Linked DNA regions of Homo sapiens: region 2 is reported to be linked to region 1. The links are microRNA targets in miRTarBase. Many come from high-throughput screens and were not tested one by one. Region 1 holds a microRNA gene; the other region holds the end of a gene's coding sequence.
What was found. The annotated mature microRNA hsa-miR-7856-5p reads UUUUAAGGACACUGAGGGAUC and lies in region 1 at 4,366-4,386, opposite strand. An mRNA with a match to its seed (bases 2 to 7 or 8) in the 3' UTR can be bound and repressed. Matches are read on the target gene's strand: a 7mer-m8 pairs with bases 2 to 8, a 7mer-A1 pairs with bases 2 to 7 and ends in A, and an 8mer does both.

Region 1 (7,124 bases):
TTATATTCACCAGGGTGTTAAGAGCAGTGATGGAACATAGAAATTTCTTGTTAAATACTCATTATACACTTGGATTAATAGAATTGGGAGCAGGAATTGGTATACACACTTCCTACAAACACACACACACAAACACAGAGACTGGTTCTTCATTCATTCACTTCCAAACTGGTCTGAATTTGAATTTTCATATTTCTCTGGTTACTTATTTTAGCAGGAAGTCTAGCTTAGTTATGTTCATCTAAGGAATCAGATATGTTTCCTTCTAAGGAAGCCTATTTGTAAGAATGCTGGGTTGGAGCCACAAGAATGAGAGTAGAGGCAGGGACTGATCCAGGAACAAGGAGCTAGTGGAAAGGACTGTCCTCCAACCTAATTCCTATGAACTCGGTTCTAAGTTATTATAAAGATTTCTTCTGTACATATTCCAAGCACAATTATGCATGAGAGATGCCAGTGTGAGCTGAAGCTATGGGAGAAAGGGCCTTTAGGACAAACATTGACGCCCTTGGCGCCGTCCCCTCAGTGTGGGCAATGGTAACAGGGCAGTGATGGCACTCTCACGTGGGCAGAAACTACAGATAGCCCCATATTCCACTGTAGCAGGAGAGAAAGGAGAGGGCAGACATACCTCTGGGACTCTGAACTCTTCCTTTCAGGAAGGAATCTGAGAGCATACCTGGCATTTCCAAAATGCACTTAGGCTGAACCCTACACCAGACTATGAGAGTGCTGAGAGCTAAGGCCAGGTCTTATTCATCTTTGCATCTCAAGCACTAGCAGATTGCCTGATACTGAAGTATTCGTTGAATGCTAACCTAATGGATGTAACTGAAATTTAATATTGTATGTATTTATCTATGCAACAATATTTGTCAAAAGGGACTTGAACTTTACAGCTCACTGAATCCTGATCAAAACAAAAATTTTCAATTATTTGCACATTCAATTTGGTTGTATATAAAAAAGGTACAGGAGGAGATTATGTCTTCAAAGTGTTTTCCATCTCTGCCCTTTCCCCAGCCACATTACCATTTATCTAGTGAAGTAGCTCTAGCCTAGCAATGTATCTGTTTTGCTTGAAAAGGAAGATAGTTAAAGAAGAAAAATGTAATTGCTCCCTTCACCCTGTCATCAGGACAAAAACAATAACTACAGGTTGCAAGATGTTTAAAAAGATGACTCTTTGGTAAATGAATTAAAAAGTTTCTAAATAAAGGCCATGCATACCTTTTGTCTTCCTTCTTCTAAAGCAGCTTCCAGTTGTCTGGCCAATGCTGTATACTCTGCAGATTTCTCTTTAAACTTAAGATTGCTGTGCTTAAGACATTCTTCTTGGTTTGCCAGCTTCTTCTCAAGCTCTTTATTTTCTGCGTCCATCTGTTCTAATTTTCTTTTTACAGAAAACATATATTTTAAAATGTTAATGTGCAGAGAAATATGCAGCAGCAATGTTAAGTAATTTAATACTTACTGTTGAAGGTTTTCACACTTCAGCTGAATAAGACAGTTTTCCTCTTCCAGAGAAAGCTTTGTCAGAAGATTGTGATTTCCATCAACCTAAAAGAAAAAAAAAAGTTTTCTTAGTCATTTTCTTCACAATCAACTTCCAAAGAAATCCATATAATTTATTGTTAGAACAACCACAAGCAACGAGAAGGTATAAATGTTACTACTCTTACACAGAAAGACACCAAGAAAATGTTATATTGTTAAAATGGAAGTTTTAAATTCCTGGTTAAATTTAAAGAAGTTATGTTGCCTGTATTGGAAAATAACCAACTAAAAAAAATTCAGGATGATGGCTATTAAAACACTTTGAACAACACCTTATTGAAGAAAGATATTTATTTTGTTAAGTTGAAATAGGAAAATTTTAAGCAGTATTAATCTCCTATTTTTGGATACCTAGGGTTTCTCTTATGGTTTTCTGTTTCACCTAAAAATACTGATTAATAATTGAGTATCTGTGAAGTCGAAACTGTAAATAAAATACATATTTTTTTGAGAAGCAAAGTGAACAAATCAACCAAAGACACACTCACCCATGCCAAGACAGAATATTCTTCCCACTGCTTCAAAATCTGCTCTAAATAATGTAAGAAGCTTTGATTCAAGGAAAAAATTTTTTTCTCATAATTTCAATTAGTAATTTAGGCTAATCTATGTCGTTTGACATTTTACTAGAAAAATCTCTTCTCAGGAATTTAAACTAAAATTTTGTCTGCATATTTTTATCTAACTTTTAAGTTCAGGGGTACAAATGCAGGTTTGTTACACAGGTCAGCTTGTGTCATGGGGGTTTGTTGTACAGATTATTTCATCAATCAAGTATTAAGCCTAGTACCTGTTAGTTATTTTTTCTGATCCTCTCCCTCTTCCCACTCTCCACCCTCTGAAAGGCCCCACTGTGTGTTGTTCTTCTCCATGTGTCCACGTGTTCTCATCATTTAGCTCCTACTTTTTAAGTGAGAAAATGCAGTATTTTTTTTTGCAAAATTAAAATCCAGATCATATTTGGAAGATAGACAGGGAATGCTTCCTAAAACTGCCTTGAAAGTAAAAGAAAAAAGACTTGTCACCATCTTTGGACTGCTCCTTTAAAAAAAATTTCATTAATTAAAAAAATATTGAGTGCTTACTATGTGCTAGGCATTGAGCTAGGAGAAGGCTATGTGGCTACTAACAGGATACACATGATCCATATTCTGATGGTATAAAAAGTAAAACAGGAAAAAGAAACAGACTGAAAAATATCCCAAAAAACTTGACGTACAATTCTAATTAAAATAAATTCAATTTTTGTAATGTAAGTTTCAATAATTTACCTTATCCTTACATCAAGGAACATATATGTAAGTATAACTTTGCTCCTTCTCTCATTCTATTACCATGTCTTCAAATGTCTATAGATTTGCATGAATAAACTAAAATAAGAATTTTAATTACCAATTTTTCACCATAAAATACTAAAAGAATAGCTTGCAAAACTGTATTATAGTATCTGCATGAAAATGATGTTTTACGAACTAAGTAGATGGGAATTTAAAAATCAAGCCCTGACATGAGTGCCCTCAACTGGTGAAATCATTCCAAAGCATTCTTTTAACGCATCTAGCAAAACTCAGAAGGACGGCTGGACACCTGGCCCTGAAGCTCCCTAATGGTGTGTTCCTGGTCTGCACACTTCCCCTTGCAGCACTGCAGACTCTCCTGACACTCGTGAAGCCTCCGTTCCGCCGCCGTCAAGGAATCGCAGACACGCTCTAACTCCTTCAGATGAGACTCCATCTGGCCTCTCATCTGAGTTGTGGCAGTAGGGAAATAAGTGCAAGATCACACATTCAGCATTAATATTTTTATTATCTTAAATACTAGATATGCTTATAACGTAAGTATTTTAGGTATAATGGCTTTAAATAAGAACACAACTGAATAAATATTAAACTCTGTTAAATAAGAATGTATAACTAAAAAGTGGGGTAGACTTTAGTTTTCAAAAAGTTTGTTGAGCACATAAATAGGGTAAATTAGCTGACAGGGTGGATGTTTAACTAATTTTTAAGAGCAAATTTTTAAAATCCTGACATTATATTCAAGCATAGATTATCACTAATAACCATTACTAATAAAGCCGTAATTGTCTACTGCCCAGCTATAGGTTCTAAAGGAATTGTCACTTTTAGTCATTCAATCTTATAACTCAGATACTTACTTAAATTAGAGCAGCTTGCTTCACTCATCTTAGCCAAAACTGATAGGGTTTACTGTATATTATTTAAAAATTGCTAGTATCATCAGTTCTCACTTGCCTTTAATTTGGCCATTAATGTTACTATCAACAAATCTCTCTAATTTCATCTACATTAATCTGTTTTGGCTACTGCAGTTCCTCGCTGCAGCACTTTCGTGGAGATGTGAAAAGCAGCAACCTTAAGAAATGTTTGCACTGCTAATTACAAAAAATAGCCAGACTCTTTCCCTGAGACAGGAACACCTAATAGTTTCTGTGTAGTATCTGGCATTCTTGATCAGGAAAGATAATGCAGTATTTTTTTTTTTTTGCAAAATTAAAATCCAGATTATATTTGGAAGACAGACAGGGAATGCTTCCTAAAACTGTCTTGAAAGTAAAAGAAAAAAGACTTGTCGCCATCCTTGGACTGCTCCTTTAAAAAAAATTTCATTAATTAAAAAAATATTGAGTGCTTACTACGTGCTAGGCATTGAGCTAGGAGAAGGCTATGTGGCTACTAACAGGATACACATGATCCATATTCTGATGGTATATAAAGTAAAACAGGAAAAAAAAAAAACAGACTGAAAAATGTCTGTTTTAAGGACACTGAGGGATCCAGAACAAAGGATCCCTCAGTGTCCTTAAAACATCTTAGAGGCCATGAGAAAACCAGGAGACTTAAAACAGTGAAGTAAGAAAAAGAAAAATTTCATTAAAAAAATAGTTGTCTTGTTAAATACTAGTTAGAAAACATTGTGACCTCACAGTATCTGAAAAAGACAGGCTCCAACCCTTTCCGTCATTTGAACAGGATTGTAAAATATGCTTTTATTTACAGTGCTGCCTAGCAGAAAAGGAGACATTTGCACTGGTATGTTTCATGAGAAAATGAGACCAAAAGACATGAAATGGTTTATTCGCTGGCCTGCTAAAAATAGGTGAAAAGTAATTCCATGAAAGCAGTAAGTTGTGCATTCAGTGAGCTATCTTTATGTCTGTATAACTGGAGGACGCTTGCTCTGGCTGACCTCTTCTTCACATTATTGCCTTGCTCTGACTTCTCAATCCTAAGATAGGGAGCAACCCAGAGAGAGTAACCTTATTAGATTCAGATGGAAGCGACCACTAACATCGCATGACCTCTGCTGCCAGGAGTCAGCATCCTACAACTTTCACTGCTTCTTTACCAAAACAACACAAAAAACCAAACAGAGATGCGGTTTCATTTAAAAATTTTAAAATATTCACAAAAACATCATAACTCGCCAACACTGGCCTTCCCTTCATTCTGTTGCAATAGAACAAATAAAAGGAAATGATCGTTTTTTAAAAGATATTATTTTTCTTCAAAAATGCATTTAGCAGATATTGGCTTTGCTTTTGTAGACGTAAAACATTTATAACCAGAAAAAAAGGGTGAGATTAAAAATGAGAGATACTTAGGTTTGTATACTTATGATTGATAACCATTTTTTGAGCTATTTAAAGTCTGCTCTTGCATCAGAAAAATTAAACATTTATGCTATTTTCCAAATATTAACAAAAAAGTGAAAAAACATTCACATAAACAAACAACATTTCCAGCCTGGAAGAAACATTATTTCCTTGGAAAACAAACTCTTACAGAGGCTAAGACTAGCCCTTTCCTAAGTATGAACTAGAGAAAATGACCAAAATGAATGAATTTGTGTACTATTCATAAAGTAAAAAATATATAAAATATTATTTATTTGAAATTCCAAACGTACCTTCTCTACATTTTTATTTTTGGTTTTTGTTATTTGGTTATTTTTATGTAGCAAATTTTCACATCTGCTTTTTACTATTTCAGCTGCTTCTTGCAACTTTTGTACCTGAAAATAAAGTATTAGAGAAACATATTATTTTTAGAATCATAACATGAGATAAAAATCTAAAATTTAAAATTTCATTTTAAACAAGTCATTATTTTCCTATCAATATCCTTGACTGGTTCATCTAATGTTATTACTTCTTTAAATATGGAATCACTCAGTGCTCTACTCTAACCCACAATCTTTGTCTGATTTACCTGTCTTCTCTCATCAATACTTCTAAACTCTCCACTTGAGCTTTGAAGACTACAAAGATTTTCATTTGCAGATCAATGTCACTTCAAAGAATCAGTCTCTGGTCCAAACTAGCTTCCATTTAAATTATTTTTCCCACCAAATCAAAATCTGCTAAAAAAAAAAAAAAAAATTCTAGGCCCTGCACCCAGAATATGGTCACTCAACCACAGTATTCCTGCTGAGGGATTAAACCCAAATAACCAGCTGGAAGACCCTGATGAATAACAAGTCCCACAGTCCACCACAACCTCCATTCCTACCTCAGACCTGGATGACTGAAATATTCTAACTGGATGTCTCAACTTAATTTTCCCATCTAATCCATCGAGATGCAGCCCCTTCCTACTTGCCCACACTTTGGCCCCCTTAAGCTTTCATCCTTAGTTCATTCTTTTTTTTTTTTTTTTTTTTTGAGATGGAGTCTTGCTCTGTTGCCCAGGCTGGGAGCACATTGGTGCAGTCTCGGCTCACTGCAACCTCCACCTCCTGGATTCAAGCAATTCTCCTGCCTCAGCCTCCTGAATAGCTGAGACTACAGGTGCATGTCACCACACCTGGCTAATTTTTGTATTTTTAGTAGAGACAGGGTTTCACCATGGTGGCCAGGCTAGTCTCGAACTCCTGACTTCAAATGATCCGCCCACCTCAGCCTCCCAGTGGATTACAGGTGTACGCCACTACACCCAGCCAGTTCATTATTCTTTAATTCAAACTCTCTCTGACCAGTGTGTTAACCATCATGCAAGGACCTGCATAAGTCCCATCTTATGAAGTTTTTTCTTGAATACTACATTTCCAAAAAAATAAAGGTTTTCTATAAATTACCATTGAACACATGGTCTATTTCATATATATTGTCATATGTTCTTTTCTTGGTCTTTCATGTGAATAATCTGAATTATACTTTATTTCTTGAGAAAGGAGGCATAATGAACTTTAATGACCCTAGAAGGGAGTCATTAATCTAAATCAATACCATTAAATACACATGATGACAAACAAATATAACCAAGATTAACAAGAATACATTAAGGGTCACATTATACCGATGTAATTCATTTTAAATCTACTTTTAGGAATATCCAGTATATCCATATGCAGTGTTTGAATCAGGAATCAGCAGAATCATCTATTTATAAAGATGTGTGGGACCTTAAGAAATATTTGAGACACACCATATTATAACCCACAATGATAGCCCCACCTCTCTTCAGTTCTATTTATTTAGATTACAAAGAAATAGTGTTTTAAATTGTCTACCAATTTTAGTAAACACTAAAATAAATGCAGTAGTC
Region 2 (7,124 bases), not on the chromosome of region 1:
ATTTGTTAGGATACTACTGTGTCAAGGTGTCAGACACCAAGCAAGAGACTTTTTTGAGATGGGGTCTTGCTCTGTTGCCCAGGCTGGTGTGCAGTGGCACAATCACAGCTCACTACAGTCTCGAACTCCTGGGCTCAAGCAATCCTCCCACCTCAGCCTCCTTCCTGAGTAGCTGGGACTACAGGCATGCACCACACACTTGGCTAATTTTTTTTATGTTTGTAGAGATGGGGTCTCACTAGATTGCCCAGGCTGGTCTGGAACTCCTGGCCTCAAGTGATCCTCCCACCTCAGCCCCCTGAAGTGCTGGGATTACAGGCATGAGCCACTGCGGCCCAGCCAAGAGATTTTTAAGAAGAGTTTATTTTCAAGGAACTTACAGTCCCATAGGGAAGCAAAACCTGGATGCGTGGATGGGTGTACCAAGCCAGACTCCAAGCAGAGGTGGGACACACAAAAGACAATGTGACCAGTCCTACGAGGAGCCTTATGGAAGAACTGACCCTGAGTTGGAGGGGGTGACAGGGGTAGGGAGGTGGGAGACAGTAAAGGCATAGAGAAAAAAAGGCAAAATGGTATGTTGCAACTTCAAGTATGATCAGCTACATTGCCATCACTTGGGACCTTGCTGGAAATGCAGCATCTCACGCCCCACCTGAGCTGCTGATCCAGCATCTGCACACTAACAAGGTCCCCAGACAACCTGTGTGCACACTGACGAGAGTCTCTGGTCTCCTTGAGAATTCTGAGCCATACATCAGACCCACCTGCATCTACACCGGGCTGTGCAATGGGAGGCCCTGTGGTCTAGAGCACGTTCATTCATCTTTCTAAGCTTCTGTCTTTTTTTTTTGAGACAGCGTCTCACTCTCTCGCCCAGGCTGGAGTGCAGTGGTGCGATCTCAGCTCACTGCAACCTCTGCCTCCCAGGTCCAAGCAATTATCCTGCCTCAGCCTCCCAAGTAGCTGGGACTACAGGCGTGCATCACCATACCTGGTTTTTTTTTCTTTCTTTTTGTAGAGATAGGGTCTCACCATGTTGGCCAGGGTGGTCTTGAACTTCTGACCTCAAATGATCCATCCGTTTAGGCCTCCCAAAGTGCTGGGATTACAGGCGTGAGCCACTGTGCCCAGCCCTAAGCTTCTGTTTTTCTTCTGTAAAATGGGAATAAGAACACCTACCTCACAGGATTGCTCTGAGGATGAATAAGGTTATGAAAAGAGCCAAGGTTGGTATGTGGCACTGAGTAAAGGAGCATTAAAGTTTCAAGGGTCTCTAATCAGGAGAGTTTGAGGAAGATTATCCAGAGCCAGCTGCAGTGGTTCACACCTGTAATCCCAGCACTTTGGGAGGCCAAGGCAGGAAAATTGCTTGAGGCCAGGAGTTCCAGACCAGCTTGGGAAACCTAGGGAGAGTCCATCTCTACACAAAAGTTTAACAATTAGCAGGTGTGTTGTCATTCACCTGTAGTCCCAGCTACTCAGGAGACTCGGGAGGATTGCTTGAGTCCACAAGATCGAGGCTGCAGTGAGCTATGATAGCACCACTACACTCCAGCCTGGGTGACAGAGAAGACCCTATCTCAAGAAAACAAAACAAGGCTGGGAACGATGGCTCACACCTATAATCCCAGCACTTTGGGAGGCAGAGGCAGGCAGACTGCTTGAGCTCAGCAGTTCAAGATCAGCCTGGGCAACATAGTGAGATCCTACCTCTACAAAAGATACAAAAAAATTAGGTGGGCATGCTGTCATGCACCTGTGATCCCAGCTAATCAGGAGGCTGAGGTGGGAGGATCACTTGAGCCCCGGAGGCAGAGGTTGCAGTGAGCCGAGATCACACCACTGCACTCCAGCCTGGGTGATAGAACAAGACCCTATAAAAAAAAAAAAAGAAGAAAAGAAAAAGAAAAAGAAAAAGAAAGATCACCCTAGATATTCTTTTAGACATGTGAAAGGATGAACAATCTCATCATAAAAGATAAAGAAATGCAGTCTTTCCCATACCCTTCCCAGATTAAGTCAGGGGAAGGTATGAGGAAACTGGAACCTTCCAGCACTTGCTAGGGGACATGTAAAAATGTACAGGCACTTTGGTTAGCAATCTAACAGTATTCAAGAATTAGTGACCAGTGATTCCACTATCAGATGGAAGCCCCCGAGAAAAATCCCACACAGGTACCCCAAAGGGAACACTACATTGCTTGCAATAGCAACATCCTGGAATTTGAACTGGGTTTGGTTATAAGTGGTAGAAACCCTAAAATAAGTGATTTAAAGAGGGGCAGCAGTCCCTCCTTCATGTGAAAGCCGAGGTCAGCACTGCCAGGCCAATGAGGTGCTACATGGATGCTGTGATCCAGGCGCCTTCCCTCACCATCCTGGCCCATGTGGTTTCTGTTCCAGAGGTCACCTTAAGTCAGTAGGGCTGCTCCACTTCCAGTAAGCAGGCAGGAGGCAAGTGAAAGAGAGGGGACAAGCTGCCCGCTATGCACACTTCTGGGAAGTGATACCCCATTCCACTTACACCCCAGGAGCCTGTATTGGCACTTGGCTACATCTAGCTACAGTGGAAGCCAGGAAGTACTGTCTTAATTTTTTTTTTTTTTTGAGACAGGGTCTTGATTGTTGCCCAGGCTGGAGTGGGTTGGCACAACCATAGCTCACTGCAACCTCAACCTCCTGGGTTCAAGCGATCCTCCCACGTCAGCCTCCCAGGGTGCTAGGTAGATTCCAGGTGTGTGCCCCCATGCCTGGCCACTGTTTTTATTCTGAGTGTCTCTGTGCCTCGCTAAAAACCATGGGTTCTAGTACCACAGAAGGAGGAAGAATGGATGTGAAGGAATAAGGATCTTATTCCTGTCTCTGTCACAAGGATCTTAGTGGGGGTCACATGAGGGCCACAAAGACAAAAATCCTCCAGTATACACAAGTTGAACATATTGCCATTTATTTTGTTGAGGTTAAACATATAATTTTAACGTATTCAAACTTATTAATGGACATTTAAAAAGCTGAAAAAGTGAAGAGCTGTACCATGTCGTGGATTATTTTAATGTCATAAAATTCAAAGGAATGCCACATTTCAATAAAACATTTTAAGAAGTTGACATACTTTTATTAGAATCATGCAAATATTAGAGAAAGGTTAATGGCTTTTTTTTTAGTAGACATTACTGAGAAAACTGGCTCATTATATCACAAAAAGTGAAACTTGGATCTCATATATAAAGGTGTATTTCACTGAATTTTTTTTTTTTTTTTTGAGACAGAGTTTCCACTCTTGTCGCCCAGGCTGGAGTGCAATGGCGCGATCTTGGCTCACTGCAACCTCTGCCTCCTGGGTTCAAGCGATTCTCCTGCCTCAGCCTCCCGAAGTAACTGGGATTACAGGCGCCTGCCACCACACCTAGCTCATTTTTTTTTTTTTTTTTTTTTGTATTTTCAGTAGAGACAAGGTTTCAGTCTTGAATTCCTAACCTCCGGTGATCCACCTGCCTCAGCCTCCCAAAGTTCTGGGATTACAGGCATGAGAAACCATGCCCAGCCGATTTCTCTCATTTTTTTTTTTTTTTTTTTTTAAGAGACAAGGTCTCGCTGTGTTGCCCAGGCTGGTCTCAAACTCCTGGGCTCAAGCAATCCTCCTGCCTTGGCCTCCTGAGTACAAAAGTGCATCTCAAATAGTTTTAAAATGATGTGCAATATTTAGCAACCAGTACAGCCCAGCATCAACCAATTAGAAGAAGTGTCTGACTGTTGAGAACAGATGCAGCCAAGGTGTCACCCCGGTGTGTACCAGCTGGACTTCAGCACTGTGTAGTGTTCTCAATATGAAAGGAAAAGCTGAACAGCTAACAGGAGAAGATGTAAAATATCTTAACAACTCTATTAAATAAGCAATCAAAAAGCAACCAACTGCAGAACAAGATAATTCATACTGTCTACATTAAAATTAAAATTTTCTTTTTTTTTTGAGACAAAGTCTCTCTGTCACTCAGGCTGATGTGCAGTGGCACTGTCTCTGTTCACTGCAGCCTCCACCTCCCGGGTTCAAGTGATTCTCCTGCCTCTGCCTCCTGAGTAGCTGGGATTACAAGCATGCGCCACTGCACCCAGCTAATTTTTGTATTTTTAGTAGAGATGGGATTTCACCAAGTTGGTCAGGGTGGTCTTGAACTCCTGGCCTCAAGTGATCCACCCACCCCGGCCACCGAAAGTGCTGGGATTACAGACCTGAGCCATCACGCCTAGCCAAAATTAAGAATTTCTGTTCAGTGACGGATACCCCTAGATACAAAGAAAATTTCAATTTTTTCCCCTTTAAATCTTTTTTTTGAGTGGAGCCTTGCTCTGTCGCCAGGCTGGAGTGCAGTGGTGGAACCTTGGCTCACTGCAATCTCCGCCTCCTGGGTTTAAGCGATTCCCCTGCCTCAGCCTCCAGAGTAGCTGGGACTACAGGTGTGCGCCACCATGCCCAGCTAATTTTTTGTATTTTAGTAGAGACGGGGTTTCACCATGTTGGCCAGGAGGGTCTCAATCTCCTGCCCTCATGATCTGCCCGCCTTGGCCTCCCAAAGCCCCCTTTTTAATTTTTTTTTGTAGAGACGAGGTCTCGCTATGTTGCCCAGGCTAGTCTCGAACTCCTGGGCTGCAGCGATCCTTCTGCCTGGGCCTCCCAAAGTGCTGGGATTACCAGTGAACCTCCATACCCAGCCCAAATATGCATTCTTGGAATTATCTGCAATTGCCCAAGAATGTACAAGCAACTCCTGAGAATAAACCAAAAAAGATAAGAAACTCCATGAGAAAATGGGCAATGCACAGGAAGGGAAACCAGAAAGGCTAAGTGAAAAAATTCCCCAAATTAATGCTGATCAGATGAATGTATGTTAAAGCACTGCACCACTATCTACCCATGAGACTGGCAAAAATTAGGTAGTCTGGCAATACAAGTGCTGGCAAGGATAAGGAGAAAAGGGCGGCCTCAAGTAGGAGGGTCAGTCACCGTTCTAAAGAAAATCTGGAAAACCAAAGAGAAACTGACCTCTGTGACCTATAGGCCCATCCTGGGTACACATGCCACACAAGCACAGAAGGGAACACACGAAAGGATGTTTATCGTGGCCTGTATCCGGTGCCAAGGGGTCAGGGGCACCCAGGTGTCCCCCACTTTAGGCAATGTGTGTAAACTGCAATTGACATTGTGGAGTGCCACATGGCAGGTCAAAGCAATACTGCATTTCTAGAAGAGTCAATGGGGCTAGATCTTAGCACACATTGAGTGAAAACAGCATAAGACCTATTGCACAATAGCACTATGTACAGTAAAAGCACATATTCACACATGAAACGTGGTATTTTACAAATACATTCATATTCAAAGACATGGGTGCTTATGGGAGAGGATGGTGTAAAGAAAGGGAAAAAAGCCATAAAACCAGAGAATCTTTGCATGGGACTGTATTCCTGAGATCCCAAACCAAAGGGATGAATGTGCTGTTATGCCTTAAATGTGTGCACCAGGAAATGCAAACTAGAAAGGGTGGCTCTGAAGGGTCCTCAGGTGAGGAAGACCCCCAGGGCTGAGAATCCACCACCTTCATCCTTCAAAAGAGTACCTCAGTTGTCTGCTTACGCTTCAGCCAGCATGTGTGAGCTTGGTCATTTCCTGCAAGCCAGGCAACCACACCAGTGTATAAGCCTCAAGCAAATGTCACTCCCAAGCCCCAAATGGGACTAAGGCCTCTGCTGGGCTAGGCGTGGTGTAAATCCCAGGCCTGGAAGCTCCTACCCAACCCTCATTTGTTTCAACTCACTTTCAATATGTGCATAGTTTCATAAAGCAGACATTTCCATGAGGAAAAGAGGATGGTGGTGAAAGGGGAGGGGTGAAGGGACATCTCCAAGTCACAGAGGCTGCAAAACTCAGCATGACTTGTGGACGGAGCCACAGGCCACCCAGGGCAACAACACCCACATAACTCACCAAGTGGTTAACGGCTCTAAACCAGGGTCAACAGGAGAGGGGACAAAAGTCACTCCTTGATTTTGCTGCAGCTTAAAGATAAGTTCTACCTCAGCTTATGCTAGCCCTTATGGGGCAAAAAAGGGAAAGTCATTCTCCCCAAGTCCAGGCTGGGCCGTCAAACAGGGAGTGGGGTGTCAGCCCCAGACCTCAATGAGGTCCCCAGATTCCATGCCCAGGTCAGCTGGCAGCTCCCTGCCTGAAAGCTTTGTCCCATCAAAGAAGAAGGAGAGCTTCCGTCCCGACAGTCCCATGGCCTCCTCATAGTGGGACATGAGGGTCTTTAGAGGGGAATCCTGGATGGAGACAAAAGAAAATGGACGTCAGAACATGAAAGGGGGCGGGGATCCCGTAGGGATAGACGAGGAACTTGGGACAGGGAGGATGGCGGCAGGGGCGGAAACAATAAAGTCAGGGCCCCATGCGGGGAAAGGAGAGAGGACAAAGAAGCCAGCCCAGCCAGGCTCCTCTCTGGGAGCTGGGACGAATCCTGTCATCCCTCTGGGCTCCAAGTTGCTCAGGTAGAGGACGGGGGCCACGAGCCCAAGGCTTAGGGGTATAGGCTCTAAGTCAGGCAAGTCCTCCTAGCCTCAGCCTCCTTCCCTATGAAACAGAAGTGTGTACCAATGACTAAGAGAGCCCAGATTCTAGAGTGAGGATGAGTCGAGCTGGAGGCCAGGCTCTCCCACCTATTAGATATGTGACCTTAGAAAAATGTTACAGGTTATGTTCCCCAGAGAAGACACCTTGTGGTCTTAACCCCTGTTAAGTGTGAATGTGATGTGATTTGGAGACGGGGCCTTTGCAGATGCAATCAAGTTGAGGTTGTACTGGATTGGGACGAGTGCTAATGCCGTGGGACTGGTAGACAACTCACTGCAACCTCTGCCTCCTGGGTTCAAGCAATTCTCCTGCCTCAGCCTCCTGAGTAGCTGCAACTACAGGCACAGGCCACCACACCCAGCTAAGTTTTTGTATTTTTGGTAGAGACAGTTTCTCTGTTGCCCAAGCTGGTCTCAAACTTCCTGAGTTCAGATAAGCCACCCACTTTGGCCTCCCAAAGTGCTGGGATGACAGGCGTGAGCCCCCGCACCCAGCC

Region 2: the mRNA of NFATC2IP is a reported target of hsa-miR-7856-5p. Seed matches in the 3' UTR shown: 7mer-A1 at 3,578-3,584 and 7mer-A1 at 3,097-3,103.

Annotation. Positions count from the first base shown.
Region 1 is chr1:86,353,300-86,360,423 of GRCh38, forward strand. It overlaps MIR7856 (microRNA 7856), which reads right to left and starts at 4,388; the gene lies at 4,333-4,388. ODF2L (outer dense fiber of sperm tails 2 like) reads right to left here. Exons shown (of 17, transcript NM_001366781.1): 12 at 5,488-5,592; 13 at 3,145-3,303; 14 at 1,475-1,560; 15 at 1,231-1,393.
Region 2 is chr16:28,962,902-28,970,025 of GRCh38, reverse strand. NFATC2IP (nuclear factor of activated T cells 2 interacting protein) reads right to left here. Exons shown (of 8, transcript NM_032815.4): 8 at 2,934-6,321. The coding sequence ends at 6,163. It overlaps NFATC2IP-AS1 (NFATC2IP antisense RNA 1), which reads left to right and starts at 3,582. Exons shown (of 2, transcript NR_186408.1): 1 at 3,582-3,610.